Linked DNA regions of Homo sapiens: all the other regions are linked to region 3. Evidence: fine-mapped expression QTL. A gene starts in region 3. Each other region holds a variant in brackets. All regions are shown on one strand. Distances are between the middles of the regions. Region 1 has its middle 29 kb from the start of SAYSD1. Region 2 overlaps GLP1R (glucagon like peptide 1 receptor). Region 3 holds the start of SAYSD1 (SAYSVFN motif domain containing 1).

What was found.
Region 1: its variant is fine-mapped to the expression of SAYSD1 in whole blood (INTERVAL, PIP above 0.99).
Region 2: its variant is fine-mapped to the expression of SAYSD1 in esophagus mucosa (GTEx, PIP 0.91).

Annotation. Positions count from the first base shown.
Region 1 is chr6:39,142,689-39,145,450 of GRCh38, reverse strand. No RefSeq gene overlaps it. Among named protein-coding and RNA genes, the nearest start is that of SAYSD1, 29 kb to the right of the region's middle. The variant A/G (reference allele first, on the strand shown) is at 1,258.
Region 2 is chr6:39,089,680-39,092,441 of GRCh38, reverse strand. It overlaps GLP1R (glucagon like peptide 1 receptor), which reads right to left. Exons shown (of 13, transcript NM_002062.5): 13 at 1,139-2,762. Among named protein-coding and RNA genes, the nearest start is that of MIR9983, 17 kb to the right of the region's middle. The variant C/TC (reference allele first, on the strand shown) is at 1,039.
Region 3 is chr6:39,113,568-39,116,329 of GRCh38, reverse strand. SAYSD1 (SAYSVFN motif domain containing 1) reads left to right here and starts at 1,144. Exons shown (of 2, transcript NM_018322.3): 1 at 1,144-1,447. The coding sequence starts at 1,241. RefSeq lists an enhancer at 1,261-1,550.

The DNA.
Region 1 (2,762 bases), 29 kb before region 3:
CACGCTGTTGATTCTGGGCATGTTCAAAGGTGTTACACCAAAGAAGCAGATAAAAACCAGTTTGGAAAATAACAAGTTTTGGAAATTCTGGGTTAATCAAAGTGAAACAGGTTGGATGTTTTGTGTGCTTGTTTTCTGCTGCAGAACTTCTCAGAGCCTTTAATGATGCTACCGTGCTTTGTGAGTCTTCAAAAAGAGGAGCAATTATGCAGTTCTTCTTGAATACCTTTGAGCGCTGAACACATTTCTCATAGGGCATCTTCAGGGCTTAGTATCCCTCAAAGCACATTTTGGGAAATCCCACTTAGCTGAACTCAGGCCAAACTGTGGTTCATCAGTGTGGCTTGACCTAAGTGGGGGTGAGTATGTGACTGAGATATGTTTGCTTCTGTCTACTGTCCTGCACTATCATTGTAGAGGAGAGCATGGTTGCCTGTCTGAATTCTGGGCCACTAGTGACTCCAGTCCAACATCTCCAGGAAATGTGAAGTGGGTGAGAAAACTGGCAGTGGTGGAAGAGAAGGAGCCAGGAGGCAGAGAGACTGATGGAGAGACAGGGCCTTTGAGAGATGTCCAGGGACAAAGAAGAGTCTTTTCTTTTCACACAGGGTTTATGAAATTGTAATTTCCTGAAACAGTATTCTACATTCAATCTCAGAATATCAAATATCAAGCAACTGAAATGGAGAGAAACATGTGTCCAGCAGTGGGTAGTTTTCAGTGCAGTTAAGAATAAACATGGACAGTGAGTAGCCCACACACTGAGAAGGGAGGTCTCAATGAGAGGGGTTATCATTAGGTGAGTTATGCCAGAGTGCTCATAATTTGTGTTTATTTTTATTTCCTATCCTTCTGATAAAGACAGCTGTTATTTCTACACTGCTTCAGACAGGGCTGGCTACATAATTTGTGGGGCCCAGTGCAAAATGAAAATGCAGCGCTCCTCATTCAAAAAGCAGAACAAAAGTGCTGTTACATATACAAAAACAAAGAGCTTTCTCCTTTCTTCTGCAATCCCTCAACTTGTGGTGCTTTTTATTTGCTATTTAAAGTACAAAGAGGGAGCCAGGCATGGTGGTCCACACCTGTAGTCCCAGATACTCGGGAGGCTGAGGAAGAAGGACTGCTTGAGCCCAGGCATTCAAGAGCAGTCTGGGTAACTTAGTGAGACCCCATTTTAAGTAAAGACTAAGTGATATGGTTTGACTGTCTCTCCACCCAAATCTCATCTTGAATTGTAGCCCCCATAATTCCCAC[A/G]TGTTGTTGGCAGGGTGGGTGGGAGGTAACTGAATCATGGAGGAGGTTCCCCCATACTCTTCTTGTGGTAATGAATGCGTCTCACGAGATCTGATGGTTTCATAAGAGGTTTCCCCTTTCACTTGGCTCTCTCATTCTCTTCTCTCGCCTGCTGCCATGTAAAACGTGCCTTTTGACTTCCACCATGATTGTGAGGCCTAGCCACGTGGAACTGGGAGTCCATTCATCCTCTTTTTCTTTATAAACTACCCCGTCTTGGATATGTCTTTATCAGCAGTGGGAAAACAGACTAATACATTAAGTAACTATGTAAAGAAAAACAAAGAAGCGTAAATTCTTAGCCTAAAGTTTATGATTCATTTTTATATGGTACAGTGCCAGTTTTAGATGCAGATTATTAAACCAAGAACAGAGGCTTCTGAGTGAAGGACTCCGCGCGACCGCACAGGTCACATGCGCGGAAGCCAGGCTTGGCTGCAGAACAGGAAGAAACATGACTTTTGTTTTCCAGCGTTCAAGCAGCTGGTTTTATGCACTCCAGACAGACAGTGTGATCGGGTGTCTGACATTTACAGTGTTTCTCCTGTGGGAAGCTAGGGTACATTTTTGAGCACCATCTCTGAAAGATTATAATGACCGCTTCATTAGAGAGAGAAAGAGGAGTCTGCAAGAAAAATGTTTCCCTTGCACTTCTTGAAGCTGTAAATGTCACTGCTCATTGTACGGAAATGCTACCAGGGCCAGGGCTGATAAGCCAATCAGGTAGCCTCCGGCAAAGGCATTTCATAAACACTGACTGAAACTGGCCTGGTAGCTTCAGGGCCCAATGGACTACACCAGGTGAGAGACTGAGAAATGGTTTCCTCGGGAGAGAACAAAACACCACCCTTCCACCTAGGAAGGGCAGGGGAGCTGGACATTACAGGAGACAGCTGTTTTCTTTCTAGAAGGTGTGCTGGGACAGAGTTAAGCCTGCATATCTGCCTTTTCCTCTGACTCCATCTTTTCCTGCTACACGAGATATCATGCAAGCATGTTGATGCCTTATGCCTTAATTAGAATTAACGTTCCCAGCCACTGGTGCCTCTTCTTTGCTTGTTTATGAAGTTAACACTTAACGATCCTCAAACTTTATGAGACTTATGTTATTGTCCTCATTTTCCTGATGAATAAACTGAGACTTCAAAGGATGATGTGACTGATGGAGGTCACCCAGCCAAAGTGGGTTTCCCTGAGCCTGGGGGCCAGGTCTGGCTGGCTCCAAAGTGAATCCTGGTCCTCAATCTTTCCCTGCCCCTGTCCATCATCCTGAATCTTGGCTCAGCATCACAGCACCGGCTGTGGATCTGTCTGCGGGATTCAGAGGGGCTAAGGATTTTACTAAATACCAACTGTACACAAACACACACACACATATAAATGGTGTAAATAGATATCTTTAGAGTCTGGGCACATCCCTTTGAATATCCTTCATGGTGGCAAATCTTTTCCTCTGAAAGTATATT
Region 2 (2,762 bases), 24 kb after region 3:
TGAGTGAGATCCTTCACAAACTCTATGTGGAACACAGTCTTCCCCATCTGGGGGCAGCAGTCACTAGAATATGGCTTTATATTGCATGTGAGGATGAATGAGTCTGGAAGCCAAGAATTCTCATTTGTCTCCCCAGTGGCTAGGCCTCGGAACAGCAGGGCAGCTCCCCAACCCCCTTTCTTTAGGCTGAGGTCAAGCCCTTATTAAGCCACAGTGCAACCTCAGAGAAAGAAGGTGCACTTCTACCTGATTTCTATTATTTGTAATAGCTACCTAGAAATGTGGTGGTCATTAATTGGTTTGGGTGGATGTTTTCCTGGAAGGTAGGGAGGGGATAAAAACCTCTATTTTGGTCCTGTTAAGTGGAAGGGGAAGGGCACAGAAAGGTAAGAATATCCATAGGGGAGGGAATTAACTCAAAAGCAAGATTGGTGCAGAGAAACAAATGCAGATGTTCCACCTGCTGCTATCAGGAGTTGGCTGTAGGTATAACTTGCTCTCAGGGTAAGAATTATTCTTATGTTTGAAAGGGACAATTACCACAGCTTGTCTAAAAAGCGGATGTTTAAAGATACTTTCAGGTAAGTACACCGACCTTCAAATAGGTGTAGCTGAAATGATGGGGGAATTAGGAGAATCTGCAATTCCTCTGCCCTTCTATAAGAGTGAGTTGCAAATCTGGAGAGTGAGTGATTATTTAAATTGGAGAAAAGTTCATTTTTTCTGAAGATGAATTTCTAAACAGCAGTTCCATTCAAATTCTGTGGCTGCTTTGCAAACAAAGCTTATGCTTTTATGACTTTTTTTTTAATGGATTTAATGGACTGAGTTCATTTAGACAGGAGAGATCGAATGAATGAGCGGAATTAAAATACACATCCATTTGGCCATCAGTTATTGTTTAAGCCACTCGACCACCCAACTTCTCTAATTAAATGACATTGCAGTCCCTGCATAAAGGCTGCGATGGATAAATTAGTACTTGGTGAGTGCTTTGAAGATGAAAATCACGGTGTGAGTAATGAGCAAGGTTTTTTT[C/TC]CTTGGCTGGAAACGGCATCTTTTGTGTTTTCCCACTGCACTGTGAGTCACCTGGATTGACATTGCAGAAAGCCTCCTTTCGCAAAGGAAGAGCAAGAGAGACAGTAGAGACAGACTTTTATTTGGCTTACAAGGCAAATTAGGAAAGAGTCTGCATCCATTCACATCTGTACAAGGAATTATATGACCTACACATTCGCTACCTATAGAAGCTGGTCCTATTTTGCAGGAATTTATATGTTAAGAAATCACCTGGAAATGATCTTGTTTAAACACTCATGAGGAGCAAACATCCCCCAAGAGCACTGAAGATAGAAATCTATCTTTGTCCCTCCTGAGAGCTTGGCTTACCTCTCTGTTGGTGCATTTAAAGGTTTGCATCAAATCCCTCCAGAACCGATGGGATGCTGGAGTTGGTCTGCTTTGAGGATGGGATGATTATTTTAGTGGAGTAGCTTAGAACTGCAGGTTTGGAGGTAAAGTGTAAACTGTTTGGCAAGATCAAGCACTGGCTGTCTGGGGTGAATTTTGCCCTTCCCTCAATGCCCCCGTTGGCTCCCCTGCAAAGAACTCAACTTTTTATATGTTTCAAATTGTGGTGAGAGCTCTTTTCTCACCACATCTAAACATTCTCATTTAGATATGTTTTTCTTGTCCTGAATTGCTTTGACACAGCAATAATTAGTCATGCTACATTGTCTAGGCTGGCTAATTACTGATAGTTTGGCAGGCCCCGTCAGAAAGGTTGCACCACCCAATGTAAGTTAGGATCCAAGCTGGTGGCTGCCCTGCTCCTCATCACATCCAAATGTAGAATGAGGTGCGTCCTTTTCAGCCCTGACAGCACCTCACTCTCAGCTGCACCCCCAAATTGGTCACAGCTGAAAGAACAGCATTCACAGTATGGCCAGCAGGGTCACCTATTCCTGAGGCAGCTGTCGGGGAGGAGGAGTGCAGGGAGGGAAGTTGGATGCATCGGGGAAAAATGGAGCCACTGCTAGACAAGGTCCTGGAAAATAGGCTAAAATGGCCAAAGAAGAGAGAAAACTCTCTCCTCTGAGAGATTCAGATACATATATATTCCAAGAGACTTGGGGAGTTATTGGAAAACAATTATGCTTATCTGCTTCCTGCCAGTCTGTATTCCTTGACAGAGCGGAAGTACTTATAGATACTGCAGACACACTGTGGCACTAAGTAAAGTGTTTGAAATTATACTGCTTAATAATGCTTCCTGTCTCGGCCCTCTGCAGACCCAGAGAGCTGATCTGGGCCAGCAGGTAACTGTAGGGGCATGGGAATGTGGTTGGCATAAGTTTCTCACTTGGGCGATTTTCTTTCCCAGGGGAACTCATTCCAGCCACAAAAGAGGGAAAAAATGTTAAGAGTTGATCCTAATTTGGTTTCTGCTGAATGTTTAGCACGTCATTCACACAGGTGTCTTTGCAGAGTAAGCCTCTGTATTTTATTTGAGAATTTTTATAGTTTGCCTCGTAGGAGCCAAAAGCAGGGTAAGCACTGTAGATTAGAATCAATTCAACAGAGGGAAAATAAACCTTTGGAATAGATTTTGCCTTCCCTGAGCACGTCGCAGGCATTAGCAAATAATGGGAGCCCTGTCTGCGCATGGAGAGGAAGCATCTACCACTTAGACTCCCAGCCTCGGGTGTGCGGTCCTATGACCTGCACAGCGGGTGTGATGATTCTGGAGTCATCATCTCCTA
Region 3 (2,762 bases):
GTTCAGATATCTACATACCTCACTCATTTAAGTCTATGCCCAAATGACAAACCTTCAGGGAGGTCTTCTCTAATACCTCCACCATTGCCTACTTTGCTTCACTTTTCTTCACAGCACTTATCAGTACCTGATATGACATGAAATATGTAGATACACATTTGTTTATTGTCTGTATTTCCATTTGGAGTGTAAGCTCTAAGAAAACAGGTTTTTGTTTGTTTTTTCCTTTCATCCCAGCATCCCCAGTGCCTGTGACTTTAGACAGAGCAGGCCCTAGGTAAACGTCTGTTAAATGAATGGATGACTCTGTTCTAATTTGTCTAATTTCTCGAGTCACCCTCAGCCAGATCCAACAAATATTTGAGTCTTAATTATGTAAGTGACACTTAGCTAGATGCTTACAGCTTTAAGAACGTATAAAACAGCCCCTAACCTGAACTGTGTCCTTTTGGGAGGGTACTGATTGGGAGAGGGCACAAGGAAACTCCCAGAGTACAGAAATGTTCTTTCTCTCCATCTGGGTGGTAGTTACACAGGTGCATACATAAGAGCAAATCTACTGAGTCATATTCTTAAGATGTGTATTTTATGTTGCACCCCAATAAAAGTTTTTGTTGTTGGTTTTTTTAAGGTTCTGACGTATCTAGACACAAAACGAGATAATTTCCCAACGTGGCAAGACCAATGATGGAGCTGCACAGCCTGCTTTGTGAGCAGTGAGAAAGTCACCCTCCAGGTACTAAGATTGGCATACCCTTTCCTTGATAAGAGAAAAAGGGTAAGATGTAGCCTGTTATTCCTCTGACGCTGGAATGTCGTAGAGATCACGGGCCTCTCCTAACCCCTGGAACCATCTTCTCACTGTGGCGCTGTTCATTGGGGCCCAGCAACAGAGATCCCGAATACAGGACGCTGGATCAGTGGGGCCTCGAGCCCTTAAGTGAGATGCAGCAAGGCAGAGCGGCCTTTGGGAGAGGGCAATGGGGCAGCCCTGTGCTTTAGACTTGGCTTGAGGAGGTGACACTGTGTCCACGTGCCTGTGAAGAGAGAACGGCTGAGTATACACGCGACCCGCCAGACTTCACAAACGGAGGAGACGCGGGTCACACCAGTGCGCATGCTCAGCAGGGGCTTCTGCCACGCAGGCGCACGGCGGCCGGCGCGGGCCGAGCGGAGGCAACTGCTGTGCGGCCTGCGGGCGCGCGCTCCCTTATCGGCCAACGGACGCGAGGCGCGCGCCATGGAACAGCGGTTAGCTGAGTTTCGGGCGGCGCGGAAACGGGCGGGTCTGGCGGCCCAACCCCCTGCTGCCAGTCAGGGCGCACAAACCCCAGGAGAGAAGGCGGAAGCAGCAGCGACTCTAAAGGCAGCCCCAGGCTGGCTAAAGCGGTTCCTGGTATGGAAACCTAGGCCCGCGAGTGCCCGGGCCCAGCCCGGCCTAGTTCAGGTGAGACGATGGAAACTTCGGCCCTAGGACCTGGCCTCGGAGCCACAGTCGAGGGCGCGGCCCTAGCTGCCGGGGGTGTGGCCCTAGCTGCCGGAGGCGGGGCTACTGGCCCCCCATCCTGATCGAGGGCCGGACCGCTCATCTCCGGCCACACGTGTCAGCACTGTTACCAGTTTTGACATTTTCTTTCCAGCCCGCGACCCACGCAGGTCCTGATTCCAGCGAGAGTCGAGGGTCCTGGGAGAAAGCACCTCTGCTCTTAAATTATTCACTCCGAATTGAGTTATCGTGACGCCCTGTGGCATTGGGAAACCTCTCCACAACCAAGTTGAGCCACAGCCCTCTGCTAATGGAGGAGGGTAAAAGGTCTAATTGGATACCGATCACAAGTAGCAGTAATTAAAACTTCATTTGATTCGCACCTGGGGCACATGCAGCTAGTAGCCCAGATAGCCTGTGACTTAGAAATGCGTTTGAATACAGAATTTACCAAAGTGTGGTAGCTGTAACTGCCGGTAGTGGCAGAAGCTTATTCCAGTTCCATAGTGAATGTTCAAGACACAAACAAAAAAAAGTGATTTAGTATGATAACCTTTTCACATTTAATTGTTTTGGTAATCTCTTGTTTTGCAGATGAATTTAATTTGCATCCTTTTGTGTTTTCATTTAGTTTTAACTCAGTAAAATGGTAAGGTGGCTTGCAGTGAGGTTGAAATGTCTATGTGGAAATACAAGACAAAACATATCAAGGGATGAGTGCTTTGTAACAATTTGTGCCCAGTGCTTTGTTCCTCATAAGTGCAATAAGAACTAAAAAATTCCTTTTAAAATGAAAATATACTGGAAGAAAAGTGTACCTTGCTCACCTTAAAATTATTTCCTGTAAGTTCATCTATTATTGCACAACATTTGATTTGAGGGAATTTTTAAAAATTACTGAACCTATTACTCAATTTTGATTTGATATTCTCAGTGATATACAGGATTCCAGCTGACTTGCAGAAAGGTGAAAAGAGCGCAGCAGAGTTCAGACAATCCATTTCCTTGTGTGCAGTTTGTGTTAATTGTCTTTGGATAATTTTATTGTTGACTAGAACTTTCTAAGTACAACACTTGCTTAAGATTTTAGAAACCATTTCCCTTATTCTTTTTCTCTCTGCAGTTAAAAAACAATGTCTAACCCATGCAATGAACTTTTGACTGTATGTCTCATTTCCAAAGGAATGAGATCATTGAGGTGGACCCAGAGAAACTGAATTCAGAGAAAAACTTCCATTATTGAGAACCCAAACGCTGATTGCCAGACAAAAGGATG